2 separate regions of the Homo sapiens genome follow, and region 2 is linked to region 1. The links come from fine-mapping of genetic effects on gene expression. A gene starts in region 1. The other region holds a variant in brackets. All regions are shown on one strand. Distances are from middle to middle.

What was found.
Region 2: its variant is fine-mapped to the expression of AMZ1 in whole blood (TOPMed, PIP above 0.99).

Annotation. Positions count from the first base shown.
Region 1 is chr7:2,683,050-2,691,365 of GRCh38, reverse strand. It overlaps AMZ1 (archaelysin family metallopeptidase 1), which reads right to left and starts at 3,164. Exons shown (of 7, transcript NM_001384743.1): 1 at 3,070-3,164. RefSeq lists an enhancer at 2,196-2,465.
Region 2 is chr7:2,705,400-2,713,715 of GRCh38, reverse strand. It overlaps AMZ1 (archaelysin family metallopeptidase 1), which reads right to left. Exons shown (of 7, transcript NM_001384743.1): 4 at 5,000-5,128; 5 at 4,472-4,641; 6 at 3,900-4,076; 7 at 1-1,386. The coding sequence ends at 838. Among named protein-coding and RNA genes, the nearest start is that of AMZ1, 21 kb to the right of the region's middle. RefSeq lists silencers at 375-574, 3,753-3,912 and enhancers at 2,233-2,392, 3,033-3,082, 3,093-3,312, 3,458-4,153, 4,073-4,172. The variant G/C (reference allele first, on the strand shown) is at 4,899.

The DNA of each region.
Region 1 (8,316 bases):
AAAGCCACTTGCCCAGGGTTACACAGCTCACCTGGATCTTGACTCCCAGCACAGAGACCCCTGACTCCAGTCCTCACACACGGACCTTCCCCTACTCTTGAGGGGGCTTTCCTGCCAGCACCCACACCCACCTGACCACCCGAAAACCCTGGTCAGAGGCTTCCCTGCCAGCAAACCCTCCTACTCCAGGCAAAGCATCAGGAAATGAGAAATGCTTTTTTTTTTTTTTTTTTTGCCTCTGTCACCCAGGCTGGAGTGCAGTGGCACAATCTCAGCTCACTGCAACCTCCTTCTCCTCCAGGGTTCAAGCGATTCTCATGCCTCAGCCTCCCTAGTAGCTGGGACTACAGACGCATGCCACCATGCCAGGCTAATTTTGTTATCTTTAGTAGAGACAGGGTTTCACCATGTTGGCCAGGCTAGTATCGAACTCCTGGCCTCAAGTGGTCTGCCTGCCTCGGCCTCCCAAAGCACTGGGATTTCAGAGGTGAGCCACCACACCCGGCTGAGAAATGCCTTCTTTTTACCAAAAGTTCACAAGCCCTACCACATTGGTTCCAGGTGTGACTTGGGCCCAAACTGCCAACCTCAGGCCCATCTAAGTTATTCAGGGAGGACCGAATGGGAGCAACAGGAAGGGCCACAGCGACAAGTTTTGCAGGGGACCAGAGCACACGCACAGAGGAGCCACGACCACAGAGGCCGTTTGCACACCCGCAAGCAGTGGCGGGCACGTGGGTAACTCAAGAGCATCTACATCGGAAACCCAGCCAGAGACACAACACCACCTTCAGCCAACCTGAGCCGCCCGGGAAGGAGTGGCCACGCCAGCTCCAGACTAGCCCGGCTGGAAGATCAACAGGATGTGAGAGGCAAGCTCTAAAAATAGCCACCTCCCGGGACAATCGCTTGAGTCCAGGAGTTTGAGACCAGCCTGGGGAAATATGGCAAAACCCCGTCTCTACAAAACATTTTAAAAATTAGCTGGGCATGGTTGTGCATGCCTGTGGTCCCAGCTACTAGGGAGGCTGAGATGGGAGGATTGCTTTCGCCCTGGAGGTCGAGGCTGTGGTGAGCTATGATTGCATCACTGCATTCCAGCCTGGAAGACAGAGCAAGACCCTGTCTGTCTGTCTGTCTGTCTCTCTCTCTCTCTCACACACACACAAAAACACAGCCACCTCCTAGTGCAGACTGGAGAATGGTGTGACAGGCTCCAAGCTAGGAATGAGAACGCTTAGCTCCCTCCATCCCTTAACACGGGTACAGCTCTCGGGCATCCAGGGCATGACGTCTGCCCACATACTATTTCCTCTCAAGAAGCCTTGTGGCCACATTCGTCTTCGTGGGTCATTCAGGAAAACCCCGGTCCCCACTGTCAGCTGCCAGCTGAGTCCTTCCATCCTGCCAGGTCATTTCTGCACAAGACCACTCCTCACATAGAGCCAGAGCTGCATGTGAGCCCTGGGGGTACCCACGGGGAGGGAGCCGCCTTAGTGGGGGTCAGCTTCGCAGCACCCTCTGGCACTCACCAACCCATCCATGCTCCAAAAAGGAGACCCCCAGATGGAGGTTTCTCGCTGTCCTTTGGACCCTGTCACAGTGTGTCCCCCTCCTCTGCTAACTGCAGTCATGACAGCAGCCAACAGGTCTCATGCCTGCGTCCTCCAAGCCACACACGGAGCCGCAGGTGCCACTGCGGTGTTTCAGGTGGGGAAACTGAGGCTCAGACGTTAAGTGACTTGGCCCTGGCGACACAGCTGGGGGCCAGCGGGGCCTGGTTTCAAAGCCACGCTTCACACTGGAACCCCAGCTGCTCCTGGAGCAGGGATGTTCTGACGGGGACAGGGGGTAGGACGTCTCCTCTCCCAGAGCACCCGAGTTCCAGCCCTGCTGCTATTAATACCATGGGTAAACTCAGACGCTTCTCCTTCCTCCTCCCCTTGCCTTTTTTTGTCCAAAGACTGGAAAAGAGCACGTCCGCATCCCCCCCCCAGGGAGGTTCTGCCGCTCTAAGCAACAAGGGCCGCCAGACTGGCCCAGTAACCAGGTATCCAAGGTCAGGCTGCCCTAAACCGCACAGCTCCGGGCACTCATGCTCCCCCATCTGACCACGCAGATGCCTGGCCTTTGGGCAAGAAACCATGCTCTGATTCTCGCTATTCTGAATGCGCTTTGCAAAACCTCCCAGCAGCTGCATCGAGCTATTCATTAGCTGACAGCGGAGACCTTCAGGCAGAACCAGACGGACGGATGGTTTTGGGGGTTTCTCACCTCTCAGTTTCCATTCGCTAGGAGGGAAAACCGGGGGCTTAGACCGCAGGGGTAGTGGCCTCCGGGCCAGACTCTTGGCTTCCTGTTCTCTCTCCTCACCTGCGAACCCCAAACTCCTCTGCCAAGTGTTTCCCTCCCGTGATGGGGGCAGAAAGGACCCAGGTCCCTGCCCTCCCCTGTCCTTTGTAAAGTTTGCCATTTCTCTGTCACCCCTCCCTTGCTTTTCTGGTTTTGAGACCTGTCTTACATCCCTGCAGGGATCATATCCACAGCCTTCTCCCTCAGTCTCCTGGGGGAGGAAGCCTTCTCCCTCCCCGGCTCATACACAGGCTGCGGGGAGCCCTGGGCACGACGAGATTCTCGGCGCCCTGGAGGTTCCCCGGGGACGTCCCGCACCCACCTGGCTCGCCCCAGCCCGGAAACGCCTTCTTTCGGGCGCTTGGCCCTGGATTCCCGACCCGTCCCCAGTTTGCTCCCATCGGGAAGCGCGCAGGTCGCCCTGGCCTGGGAGAGGATGGCGGGGAGGGGGCGCGTGGCCCTTCCCTGGCCCGGCCTTCCCTCTGCAGGACCTGCCGGGGCTGTGCGGACCCCGGCGCGGCGCTGCACCAAACCCTCGCCAAGTGCGCCCTTCGCGTCTCCGCGGTCCCCGCGCGCCCGTAGCCGCCGCCGCCCGGGCGCCCTCGGGACTTGGTGCGCGGGCCGGGCTGGACCCGGAGCTGCCCCTACCCACCCGCCCCGGCACGGAGGTCCCTCTCGGTCCCTGCGCCCCCGAGTCTTCCCCGCGCGCCCCCCTACCTCGCAGTCCCGCGCCCGCCGGAGCCGGCAGAGGCCGCGCCGGGCACCGAGCCCCGGGCAGCAGCGTGGGCAGCTCGGCCTGGGCCGGGAGGATCGGGAGGTCCCGGTGACGTCGGCGCGCGGGGCAGGGACCGAGGCGGGCGGGACTGGGGCCGGTGTGGGGCCGCGGGCAGGACAGGAGGGCCACACCCCTCCCGGCGCTCAGCGTCCTGCCCCACTCCCTCCAGCTGCCCGCGGTGGAGCTCACGTGGGACCCTCCAGCCTCCCAGAAACACCCGGGCAGGGGGGCCCCAGAGCCTAAAGCCAAACAGGTGAGGGAGGTCAGTCAGCCCGGGCCAGTTCGTGCCTCCCCAGGTGAGAGGAGTAAACCCGGCTACTCTGCAAGGCGCCAGGTGAAGAGGTGAACCAGGCCACCAGTTAAGGCCCCAGGTGAGAGGGGTGAACCAGCGCCACGAGGTGAGGAAGGGGAACCAGGCCACCAGGAGAGGCCCCAGGTGAGAGGGGTGAACCAGGCTATCAGGCAAGGCGCCAGGTGAGGGGGTGAACGAGGCCACCAGGTGAGGAGGTGAACCAGGCTTATCAGCGAAGCCCCAGGTGAGAGGGGTGAACCAGGCCCCTAGGTTAGCCCTACAGTCAGTGGCCCTGAGGACGGGCGCCCTGCCCTACCCTGGCCAGCTGTGAGTGCAGCCCTGGCCCTGTGCCAGCCACCAGGAGATGGAAAGGACTCTAAGTGCGGAAGGATGCCGTGAAGGCCGGCATGACGGCTCCAGACAGAGCCCAGAGGCCTTTTCCATAAACTGCCCTTTTCCTCTCTGCAAACCCTCCCAGCACCAGCTTCCCTCGGGCAGCCTCCCACCAGCTCTGCTTCACCGTGCAGAAATGCCCCCCACGCCCTCAGCAGCGCCCCACAGATGGCTGAGGGATTCGTCACCATCGTCCCACACCAGTGCAAAGAATTTTTTTTTTTTTTTAGATGGAGTCTCGCTCTGTCGCCCAGGCTGGAGTGTAATGGTGCAATCTGGGCTCACTGCAACCTCCACCTCCGGGGTTCAAGTCATTCTTCTGCCTCAGCCGCCTGAGTAGTGGGGATTATAGGTACCCATCATTGTGTCCAGCTAATTTTTGTATTTTTAATAGAGATGGGGTTTCACCTTCTTGGCCAGGCTGGTATCAAACTCTTGACCTCATGATACACCCGCCTCAGCCTCTCAAAGTGCTGGGAGTACAGGCGTGAGCCACCACACCCAGCCTCAAAGAATTTTTTTAAGCCTTAAGAAATAACACGGCTGGGCGTGGTGGCTCATGCCTGTAATCCCAGCACTTTGGGAGGCTGAGGCAGACAGATCACAAGGTCAGGAGTTCAAGACCGGCCTGGCCAGTATGGTCAAACCCCGTCTCTATTAAAAATAAAAAAATTAGCTGGGCGTGGTGGCTGGTGCCTATAGTCCCAGCTACTCGGGAGGCTGAAGCAGGAGAATCACTTGAACCCGGGAGGCGGAGGTTGCAGTGAGCCGAGATTATGCCACTGCACTCCAGCCTGGGTGACAAAGCAAGACTTTGTTTCAAAAAAAAAAGAGAGAGAGAGAAAAACAACACAACACTAGGTGTCCGGTGTGCAAAATTTGGAAAATTATGAAAAATAAAAACAAAAAGAAGACCCCATAAGCCAACTGTGTAGAGGTAACCTCTCTCACCTTCTTGTCAGACATCCTTCTGATCGCCTTCTCCTCCACATTGAAATGTATTTTTAAAAAGTTTTTTTTGAGACAGGATCTTGCTCTATTGCCCAAGCTAGAATGCACTGGTATAAACGCGAGTCACTGTAGCCTCGACCTCCTAGACTCCAGCAATCCTCCTCCCTCAGCCTCCTGAGTAGCTGAGACTACAGGTACGTGCCATCACACCTGGCTAATTTTGAAACTTTTATGTAGAGATGGGATCTCGCTATGTTGCTCAAGCTGGTCTCAAACTCCTGGGCTCAAACAACCCTCCCAGCTCGGCCTCCCAAAATGTTGAGATCACAGGTATGAGCCACCGTGCCCAGCCTAAATACATATTTTAAGGGATTCACGTCACATACTGCGTTCTGCAGGCGGCCCGTGACTTCACACTCATCAATAGCCAAAAGTCCGTCTCCACACCCTGATGGTCTGCGCTGGACTCCGTGTCATGGATCTGTCACCTGCTTTGGGATATTTTGGTTTCTCCTGGTGTCTCACTAGCATATATCACTGTGATAGACGATCTTGTTTCCACAGATCTTTGTACAGGTATCTGGTCCCCCTCACCTTGGGATAAATTCCTACAAATAGATTGTGACTCAGAAAGCTGCACTTCTTCACACGTGTTGCCGCAGGGATTTTCCAGGTTATTTCTGTTGGGGATGGAGAACCCAGAACCTGAGAAAAGATGAATGTTCTTTTTTTTTTTTTTTTTTTTTTCTTGAGACGGAGTCTCGCTCTGTCACTCAGGCTGGAGTGCAGTGGCGTGATCTCGGCTCACTGCAAGCTCCACCTCCCGGGTTCACACCATTCTCCTGCCTCAGCCTCCTAAGTAGCTGGGACTACAGGCGCCTGCCATCATGCCTAGCTAATTTTTGTGTTTTTAGTAGAGATGGGGTTTCACCATGTTGGCCAGGATGGTCTCGATCTCCTGACCTCGTGATCCGCCTGCCACGGCCTCCCAAAGTGCTGGGATTACAGGCATGAGCCACCGCACCCGGCCTTTTTTTTTTTTTGAGACGGAGTCTCACTCTGTTGCCCAGAGCTGGAGTACAAGTGGCGCGATCTCGGCTCACTGCAAACTCCACTTCCTGGGTTCAAGCGATTCTCCTGCCTCAGCCACCCAAGTAGCTGCGATTACAGGTGCCCGTCACCTCGCCCGGCTAATTTTTGTATTTTTAGGAAGGACAGGGCTTCACCCTGTTGGCCAGGCTGGTCTCGAACTCCTGACTTCAAGTGATCCACCCGCCTTGGCCTCCCAAATTGCTGGGATTACAGGCGTGAGCCACCGAGCCTGGCCTGAATGTTCTGTCCTAAAGCTGCTTATTACAAAGAAGTTGTGGAATATCCTCCCCCCAACCCCCACGCCCCTCCCTGAATAGCCACCGGAAAGGAAATTATGCATCGAGGCCGGGCGCGGCGGCTCAACCTGTAATCCCAGCACTTTGGGAGGCCGAGGCGGGCGGATCACGAGGTCAGAAGATCAAGACCATCCTGGCTAACACAGTGAAACTCCATCTTTACTAAAGATACAAAAAATTAGCCGGGCGTGGTGGCGGGCGCCTGTAGTCCCAGCTACTCAGGAGGCTGAGGCAGGAGAATGGCGTGAACCTGGGAGGCGGAGCTTGCAGTGAGCTGAGATCGCGCCACTGCACTCCAGCCTGGGCGACAGAGACTCCGTCTCAAAAAAAAAAAAAAAAAAAGCAATTATGTGTCAAGCCCAGAGTGGCAGTTCCTCCTCTGTCTGTTGGGTCAGCCCGGGAGACTGGAAGCCCAGATGAGTAGGGCCCCTCCTGGGTGCCCCAAGTTGGGTGGCGCCATGCCCAGTGCCAGGACCCCCGAAACACAGAGGCAGCCTGCTGATGACCTGGCCCCTGCCAGCCAAGGCTTCACTCAGCCAACGCCCTGTCCACACTGCACCCGGGACACGCTGGTCTCCCACCGGCAGACTGCACACCCCTTTCTGGTTGAAGCTACCTCGTCAGAGTCTATTCTAGAAAGAGGCCGTGATATGGGGACCCCTGTCCTTTCAGTGATGAACAAAGGGGGCCGCCCCCAACTTTGACCCCATCACCATCCTCTGACCCAGGCCGACTTGGGGTTAAAAGAGAACTGTGTGGCCTGGGGAAGCTGCTTCACCTTGCCCTGCCTCAGTTTCCCCAGGGTGGGTTACATAGCGGCTCCCAAAAATGTGCCTACTTGCACCATCAGAATGGGACCTTATTTGGAAACCGAGTCGTTGCAGATATGGTTAAAGTAAGGATCTCAAGATGAGGTCATCCTGGGTCAGAGTCAGGGTGGGCCCTAAATCCAATGCAAGTGACTTTGTAAGAGACAGAAAGAGGTTCCTCATTGGAGGAACAAGACAATGTAAAAAATAATGACAATTTTTTTTTTTGAGATGGAGTCTCGCTCTGTCACCCGGGCTGGAGTGCAGTGGCGTGATCTTGGCTCACTGCAACCTCTGCCTCCCAGGTTCAAGCGATTCTCCTGCTTCAGCCTCCTGAGTAGCTGGGATTATAGGCGCGTGCCACCAAGCCCAGCTAATTTTTGTATTTTTAGTAGAGATGGGGTTTCACTGTGTTGGCCAGGCTGGTCTTAAACTCCTGACCTCAAGTGATCCACCCGCCTCGGCCTCCCAAAGTGCTGGGATTATAGGCATGAGCCACTACACCCAGCCAACAATTTTTTAAAAAGAGAGAGAAAGAGGCTGGGTGAGGTGGCTCACGCCTGTAATCTCCAACACTTTGGGAAGCCGAGGTGGGAGGATCACTTGAGCCCAGGAGTTGGAGACCAGCCTGGGCAGCATCTCTACAAAATATTGTAAAAAACAGACAGAGCTGGGCGCGGTGGCTCGCGTCTCTAATCCCAGCACTTTGGGAGGCCAAGGCAGGCGGATCACGAGGTCAGGAGATCGAGACCATCCTGGCTAACACGGTGAAACCCCGTCTCTATTAAAAATATAAAAAAATTAGCCAGGCGTGGTGGCAGGCACCTGTAGTCCCAGCTACTCGGGAGTCTGAGGCAGGAGAATGGTGTGAACCTGGGAGGCGGAGCTTGCAGTGAGCCGAGATCGTGCCACTGCACTCCAGCCTGGGTGACAGAGCCAGACTCTGTCTCAAAAAAAACAAAAACAAAAACAAACAAACAAACAAAAAAACAGAAAGTTGAAGACACAGAGACACAGAGGAGAAGACGGAGATGGGAGTGGTGCAGCCACAAGCCAAGGACACCTGGAGCCCCCAGAAGCAGGAAGAGGCAGGAAGGACCTTCCCCTGGAGCCCTCTGCAGAAGTTCGGCCCTGCCCCAGCCTTGACTTCAGACCACTGCCCTCCAGAATTGACAGTGAATGTGTGCTGTTTGAAGCCGCACAGCTGTGGTCATTTGTCACGGCAGCCGCAGGAAACTCATCCACATTGGAAAACAGGAAAATGCTTCACACGGGTTTTATAAGGAAGAGGAAAACTCTCCCGGGGCATTGGCACAAGGAGTCCTGGGAAGCAGCAGCTGCTCACCCAGCAAACTC
Region 2 (8,316 bases), 22 kb before region 1:
GCCTGGAGAGCCCCGGTGAAGTCCGTCAGGATCAGGATGCTGTTAGCGCCACAGAACGTGACAGTGTGTGTGTGCATGTGGTTGACGCCTGAGATGATAGAGACAAAACCCCGTCACTTCCCCGTTAGGGAGGAGACTCAGCCTTGGAAGCTGGGTGGCAGTGTGGAGCCTGTGTGCCCCCGGGGTCACTCCTCATCTGAGCCAGCCTCTCCAGCTCCAGCTATAAATAACTGAAGGGCAGGCCCACAGCCTGGAAGGAGACAGGACGCACGCTGCTTCCTTCTGCCTCTGCAGGGGAGGGGGCTCTGTCCCAACCTCAGCACAGTCCGGCTTGTACTCCACGAGAAGCACCCAGGATCAGGGAGGCCTCTCCATGTGTGCAGGCCCCTGGGAGCGGCTGGCTGGGACTCAGGAGTTGAAGGAGGCGCCTGAAGACAGGTGGTCTGTGGCTTCTCCAAAGAACTTTTTTTTTTCTGGAGACAGTCTTTCTGTGTGGCCCAGACTGCAGTACAGTGGTATGATCACATCCCACTGCAGCCTCGACCTCCTAGGCTCAAGCAATCCTCCCACCTCAGCCTCCTGAATAGCTGGGAACACAGGCATGAACCACTTCATCCAGCTAATTTTTTAATTTTTCTTTTGTAGAGGCAGAGTCTCACCATGTTGCCCAGTCTGGTCTCAAACTCCTGGCCTCTCAAAGTGATGGGATGACAGGCCTGAGCCACCACCCAGGCAGACCCTTCCTCTTTATCCCTGGCAGGTCAGTAGTGGCCTCAGCTACTGGACAGTGCTGGCCAGCATCCTTAGGGAAGGAGACGTAGGGCAGCCCCTGCTGTACTAACTCTCTTCCCCATCCCAGGGACGGGGGGCCGACTCTGCTCTGGCGAGTTTTCGGGCACTCAGCTTCCTCCTCAGGGAGGAGAACTTGTCCCCCAGCACCTTGCGCAGCCCCACGCTGTCCCTGCTGCTGGGTGGGTCCTGCCTGGTGGCCGGGAGCTGGCCCGTGAACATCTCCCAGCGGTCGAGGGCGTCCACGGCTCTGTCCACCTGCACCAGGTCCTCCTCTGCCACTTCCCGCTGCAGGGCCTGGATGCACATGGCCAGCCACCGTTCATGCTCCTTGATGGCCTCCGCAGGGCCCCCAGGTGGCAGCGGAGCCTCTGAGGCTGCCAGGTAGCTCAGCCCTTCCTCTGGCCCCGAGGCGAAGGTGTGACTCCCGGCATCAGGGGTGAGGGGCTCCGACACACTGGTGCCGGGCTCCGAGTCACTCTCACAGCACATGCCCGAGTCGGCGCTGGCAGGCGGGGTGTCCTCCCACACTGACGGCTCCCCCGCCTCCTGGCTGGGCCACGTCCCCACCACCGCCTGAGTCCAGGTGTAGAGTCTCTAAGAGGGAGAAACACAGGCTGAGTTTGCTCCGTGCCAGCCCTTGTCTAGCCAGGGAACTGCCAGGAGACCTCCTTACCTAAGGGGACCCCACCGTCCTCAGTTACCCAGGGGCGGGAGTCAGGCTGGTGGTGTGAGGGCTCTTGTGACCAGCACCCTTTGAGGACTCATGTCCAGGCTGTGCCAGAGTCAGAGGTACCCACCCCCAAGAGCTCACCATTCAGGAACTTCGCAAGCTCCTTGTCATCCAAAGTTAGAACACTTAACATTTTTCGATTTTTTTAAGACAGAGGCTCACTCTGTTGGCCAGGCTGGAGTGCAGTGCTGCGATCTCAGCTCACTGCAACCTCCCCCTCCCAGGTTCAAGCAATTCTCCTGCGTTGGCCTCCTGAGTAGCAGGGATTTTACAGGTTCCTGCCAGCATGCCTGGCTAATTTTTACATTTTTTAGTGGAGACGGGGTTTCACCATGTTAGCCAGGCTGGTCTCAAACTCCTGACCTCAGATGACCCACCCACCTCCGCCTCCCAAAGTGCTGGGATTACAGGTGTGAGCCACGGCACCCACCCAGAAAGCGTATAATTAAATAAAATTTAAAATTTTAAAGCAAAGGTGTGGGCATGGTGGCTCACGCTTGTAATCCCAGCACAGGGAGGCAGAGGCAGGAGGATCACTTGAAACCAGGAGTTCAAGACCAGCCTGGGCAACATAGTGAGACCACCAGGGGGAAAAAAATGTAAAGCAAAGGCAGTACTTGAAACTCACTTCCTAAATGTTTTCTCCATTTCACTCTCACCTCTGCTCTCAAGGTTAGTCTCCTCTCCTGCATCTGTACAGGGGACACACAGTTTAACAAGGTCCCACTGCACATCTGTTCCCAACTCAGCACTCACTGACATCACATTGGGAGCTCACATCAGCCATCGTGAGACTGTTTACACCACAGGAAGTGGCAGAGACCACAACAAGTCAGGCTTTCTTCAAGAGGCATTTCACTGATTGCTGTCAGTGGACAGCAGTGACCTTTTCTGGCCAGGCCCTTGGTCAGCTCTCCAGCACCTCCCCAAGCCCTGGGACAGCAGGTGACCTCACATCCACACCACTGCCCTCCCTACAACAGCCAGGAGGGCCAGGCCACCCTGGAGTGCCTTTGCCCTGGCCCTCTTCCCTCCACAGCCTCAGGAGATGGTGCTCACGGAACGGAGAGAGCTCTGGGCAGGAGGAGGAGCTACACCCTCCAGCTCAGATCCAGGTGGATCCAGGCTATGCCAGGTCAGCACGTGTAGGGAGGGGCATACACTTTCTAAAAGTTCATGTCAGATGGTTGCACAAGACCCCAGGTGAAGGCATCAAATGAGAGCTCTCAACCCTTTCTGCAGACCAAGCTGCCCCTGTGCCTGTTACACAGCCTCAGGAAGGTACTAAGAGCTGCCCCTTGACGGGGCACAGCTGGCAGCAGCAACCTTTACAAGGCATCACCAGGTGCTGACCAGCCATCACGCCACCTGTACCCTCGGGAGATGCTCCTACCCTCAGCCATGGCTGCGCCTGGGTTCCCCCCAAGTCACAGGCTCTTCTCCTTACACTTGGAAAAGCTGTTTCCTCTGTGCCCCCTTCACCTTCCCTTGACTGCCAGAGTCTTCAGAGAGGATCCCTGCAGAGAGATTCCAGCACTGTGAGCTAGAAATGCCACGGCCTCTAGTTCAGTGTCACCCAGGACCCTGCAAGATACAGCTCCTCACTCTACCCCAGAAGGAAGGAGGGCCCAGCTAGGCCCTGCAGGGGATTCTGACAGGCTCGGTCCGGGAACCACACCCCCACTTGCCTCAACGGGCGGGAGGAGGATGCAGGGGCTTTCCAGCGCGGTTTCATTGACTGCTCTGGTGCCTGTACGCAGTGAGCACCTTATAACTGGTTGTAGTCCAAAGCTGGGTTTGAAGAAAAATTACCACCACCTGCCTTTGCACTCAGAACTCAGAGTAAAGCTTTTGAGCTTGCAAACAAATGTCCATGAATACGGACGAGCCCTTTGCTCGGCAACCCCACCCAGGCGACAGAGGGAGTTAGGAATGGAGGCCACCTCCAACAAGCCTTGTTGTGTCAGCTCCCACCTCCTCGCAAGGGGCCTGTGCCTCCTCTGAGCAGCAGTGACCCAAGTGTGGGTGACGGGAAAGCAAAGAGAAAGTTACCCTGGGAAGACCGTGCCACCCGCCGGCTGGGCTCCAATGCCAGCTCTTCCTGACAGAGGGAGAAAAGCCCTCGTCCCCACTCGACCCCGCTGCAACCTCCCAGTCACAGCCACCACACGCGGGCCCTGGCAGGACTCGATCTACTGCCAGTGAGATCCGGATGGAGCTCAACCCCAGCGCAGGTCCCAGGGCTCTGCACTGCCTGGAACCCGGCAGTTGACAAAGCCTGTGTGCGGTCCCCATGCCCTGCGTAGCCTCCAGGCGGCGCTCGCGGGCCTCCGGAGCGCAGGTCCCAGCAGCCGGGCAGCGCAACTCAGCCACTCACCTGGTACCTCTCGATGAGCCTGAAACCCAGGACATGCTGCAGCTTCCTCAGGCAGATGGGACAGAGGTCCAGGGGCCGCCGCAGGGCCTCGTCCAGGCTGAGCGCACCCTGCATGAGGCAGCGGAGCCAGCGGCAGTTCCCCAGGCCCAGAAGGTGGCAGAGCTCGTGGCACGTGACCTGGGGGGAAGGCCACCAAGCACCTTGCCTCACTGCCTTGCCCCTGCATCCGGCAGATCCCCAGGCAGCCCCAGCAGGACCAAAATGAGGACCTGGGTGAGGCCAGATGGCCGGGAGGTGGTCCAGGCGCCCTCCCCCTGCCCCAGGCGGCACAGGCCACTTTCAGGGCCCCAGGGGAAAGGTGAGTCAGGGTGGGAGGCCACACAGGATAGGGGCTTGGGGCTCTAATCCCTCCCCTGCTGCTTCATAGCTGTGTAGCCTTGCTTTCCTCATTCCATAGAGTTAGGGGTCCATCCACTTCACTGTGAGGATGGGGCAGTGTAACAGACCGAGGCACCAAGGGCTCAGACAGCACCCTCCTGTCCCCTCTTACCAGCCCCAGAGCCCCCACCCACCTTGCAGCACTGAACCATCCCCAGGGCACTGAAGCACAGGGCCCAGCCCCTGTCCTGCAGGGGGGCCTCGGGGCCGTCTGCTGCTGCCTCTACCAGGGCCAGATCAGGGGCGCTGGGCCCCGACTTCGGGAATTCCCCTGAGAACCGGGCGAAGCTGCAGACGCCCACTTCTGGAGAGAGATGGAGAGAAGGGCACTCTCAGGGGTCAGCCTTGGCTCTGGGGGGCCCACCGTCAAACCCACCTCATGCTCTCATGCAAGCTGGCCATGGCCCAAAGACATACCAGTCCTGGGAGGCCCTGTCCTGCCCACATGAAGTTGGGCCCTGGGGCAGACGCCACAGCTGAGGAACAGCCCCTATGCCATTCCTCAGGAGGAGCTGGAAGGGGCCATCTATTCCCATGCACAGGTGTTGACTTCCACCAGGA[G/C]GGTGCTTGAAGCAAAAGCAAAGAGGGTGCCCTGCAGCCACGGAGGCCACAGCCCCATGCCAGGCTACCCCCCACGCACAGCTGCTGGGGCCCCGGCTCACCGTGCCCTGGAAGGAACTTGCTGAAGGTGAAGCTCCAGGCCTCATGGGGGTACAGGTCAGACAGTGTGAGGCCCAGCACACACAGCGCGTCCCCTGGCTTGTTGTTCTTCAAGAAGGACAGGATGCCGTCTGCGGGGAGAGGGCCAGAGGATGGGGTCAGGAGGCAGCCGGGGACCCCCATCTTCCAGGCTCAGGCTGGCACCCCGTCATCCTCTTCCTCTGCCTGGGCCCTGCCCCTTCCCAAGTCAGGTGTGGGCCACCAGCGTTTGGTGTGACCTGAGGGCACACAGTACTGCATGATGTGGAGTGACAGCCAGGGCCATTTGGAGATCAGGACATGGTAAGTCAAAGGCCATGGACAGCCCAGTGGGGACGCTGGAGAGGCAGCCGGGCCAACAAGACTGGCGCTTGCAGCCCCAGGAAGGAGAAGCCACCTCAGCAGCTGAGCGACAGCCCCAGAGAGTCCACGTCTCAGCCCTGGGACCTGTGAGTCCCCACAGCCAAAGGGGCTGCAGATGATTAAAGATCTTGGGATGGAGGCGTTTTTCTGCAGCAGCCAGCTGAGCCTGATGCCATCACAAGAACCCTCGGTAAGGCCGGGCACAGTGGCTCACACCTGTGATGCCAGCAACTCGGGAGGCCAAGATGGGCAGATCACCTGAGGTCAGGAGTTCGAGACCAGCCTGGCCAACATGACAAAACCCCATCTCTACTAAAAATACAAAATGAGCCGGGCCTGGTGGTGCGTGCCTGTAATCCCAACTACTCAGGAGTCTGAGACGGGAGAATTGCTTGAACCCAGGAGGTAGAGGTGGCAATGAGCTGACATCACGCCACTGCCCTCTAGCCTGGGCAACAGAGCCAGACTCCATCTCAAAAAAAAAAAAAAAAAAAAAAAGCCCTCGTTAGAGGCAGCAGGGGGTCTGGGTGAGAACGTGAGGCCTGAGGGCACTGCAGGGCTGGCTCGGAGGAAGGACCATTAGCCAAGGATACGGGTGCCTCTAGAAGCTGGAAAGGGCAGGAAATGGATTCTCCCTGGAGTTTCCTGGAGCCAACCCTTGACTTTAGCCTGGGCAGTGGGGGCGCTCCTGACCCACAGCACTGTGAGATCACAGTGGGTCATCCAAGCTAGCAAGTTGTGTAACTTGTTAGCATGGTTCCCCGGAGCATGAGTGTGGACAGATACAGGAGAGGCCCAGGGGCTGAACCTGGGCACGATGGCATCAAAGCCGGGAAACCAGAAGCCCAGGGAGGGAAGGGGGCAGAGCAGCCACCACGGGCCCAGGAAACCCGGAGAGGGTCTCAGAGTTAGTGTAGAGAAGAGGGGTTGCGGCACAGAGGCACACCGGAGAAGTGTTTTCCAAGGAGTTCTACCATTAAAAGGAACAGATTGACAAGGAGGTTGTTCTGTGTGTGTGTGTTTTTTTGTTTTTTTTTTTTGAGATGGAGTGTTGCTTTGTTGCCCAGGCTGCAGTGTAGTGGCGCTATCTATCTCAGTTCACTGTAACCTCCGCCTCCCAGGTTCAAGCCATTCTCCTGCCTCAGCTTCCTGAGTAGCAGGGATTACAGGCACGTGCCATCACACCCAGCTAATTTTTGTATTTTTAGTAGAAAGGAGATTTCACCATGTTAGTCAAGCTGGTCTCAAACTCCTACCCTCGTGATCCGTCTGCCTCGGTCTCCCAAAGTGCTGGGATTACAGGCATGACCCACCACAGCTGGCCCTGTGTTTGTTTTTGAGATAACATCCCATTCTGTCACCCAGGCTGGAGTACAATCACAGCTCACGCTGCAGTCTCCACCTCCTGGGCTCAAGCAATCTTCCTGCCTCGGCCTCCTGAGCAGCTGGGTAATTGATTGACAATGATGCTAATGAGGTGATGATGATTGACAGTGATGATTGTTGTGGATCAGGCTATGTCCCCCAAAAAGACAGGTGGAAGTCCTAACCCCCGGAACCTGCCATTGTTTGGAAACAGGATCTGTGCAGATGTAATCCAGTTAAGATGAGGTCATGAAGGAGACCCAGTGACTGGAGTCTTAGAAGAGACGCAGAGGCACATGGCGTAAAGCTCACGGGAAGTCAAAGGCTGAGGTTGGAGTTGTGCATCTGGAAGCCACAGAGGGCTGGGCATTGCCAGCAACTTCCAGAAGCTGGAGGCAGCCAGGAAGCACCCTCCACGGAGCCTTCTGAGACCACGTGGCCCTGCCAAAACCTTGGTTAAGAACTGCAGGCTCCAGCGATGTGAGACAAGAAATGTCCCTAAGCCACTCAGTTTGTGGTACTTTGTTACGGCAGTCCCAGGAAACCAGTACAGTGATCCAAAGCATGCTACTCTCTGGGCAAGATGGCAGGACCCCATCTCTACAACAATCAAAATAATTAGCCAGGTGTGATGGCACGTGTCTGCGGTCCCAGCTACTTGGGAGGCTGAGGCAGAGGAGCCCAGGAGTTCAAGGCTGCAGGGAGCTATGATCGCACCACTGCGCTTGAGCCTGGGTCACAAAGCAAGACCCCATCTCTAAAAAAAAATTAAAAACCAGGCTGAGCTGACCCCACAAATGCAACCTGGCATACCCTCTGAGTTCCACCTGCTTTTGAACCTTCCCGAGTGCATGTCCTTTTCCCGAGGGCTCCCCCGTGCACCTTCTGAAGTGTGGGGCTGGGGAAAACAGCAGTTTGTCCACTAAGCAGAGGGGGTGGAAAGCCCTGGAGTGACCCTTGTGGGACTTGGTGCTGTCTCTGAGCTGCCACAGGCCTGGCACCAACAGGTCAGAGGCCATAACAGGTGAGACGCACCGTGTACGGCGTGGGGGAGGTGAGGAGAGCTGAGGCTGCAGAGGCCAAGCCTGAGAGGCACGGGGTCCCCGGCTGTGTTTTAGGGCCAGGGCCAAGGCAGGCCACATTGTCCCCAGACCCCACTGTAGGACCTCAGGGGCTGGGGAAGCCTGTGGAGTGTAGGCTGTACCCAGAAAGCAGGCCAGGACAAAGAAACATGCCACCCAGGGGATGGCACCCCACCCCAGCCAGGGGACCCCTATCAACCCCCAAATCTCAACAGTGGCTGCTCCCTGTAACAGTACCCTAGGGAATTTAGACAACCCTCCCGCCAAAAGATGGCCAGACAGGCAGAGTGAATGATAAAGAACAGCTGCTTCCAACACCCACGATGGGGAGGAGTGGATTAAGGAGAAAGGTTTGGTGGCCGGTAGAGGGGTAGAGAGCCGCCCTCTATATGATTATGGTGATGGCCACGTGATGTATGCGTGTGTCAAGACTCAGAACCTTACACTAAAAAGGATGAATTTTACTATCT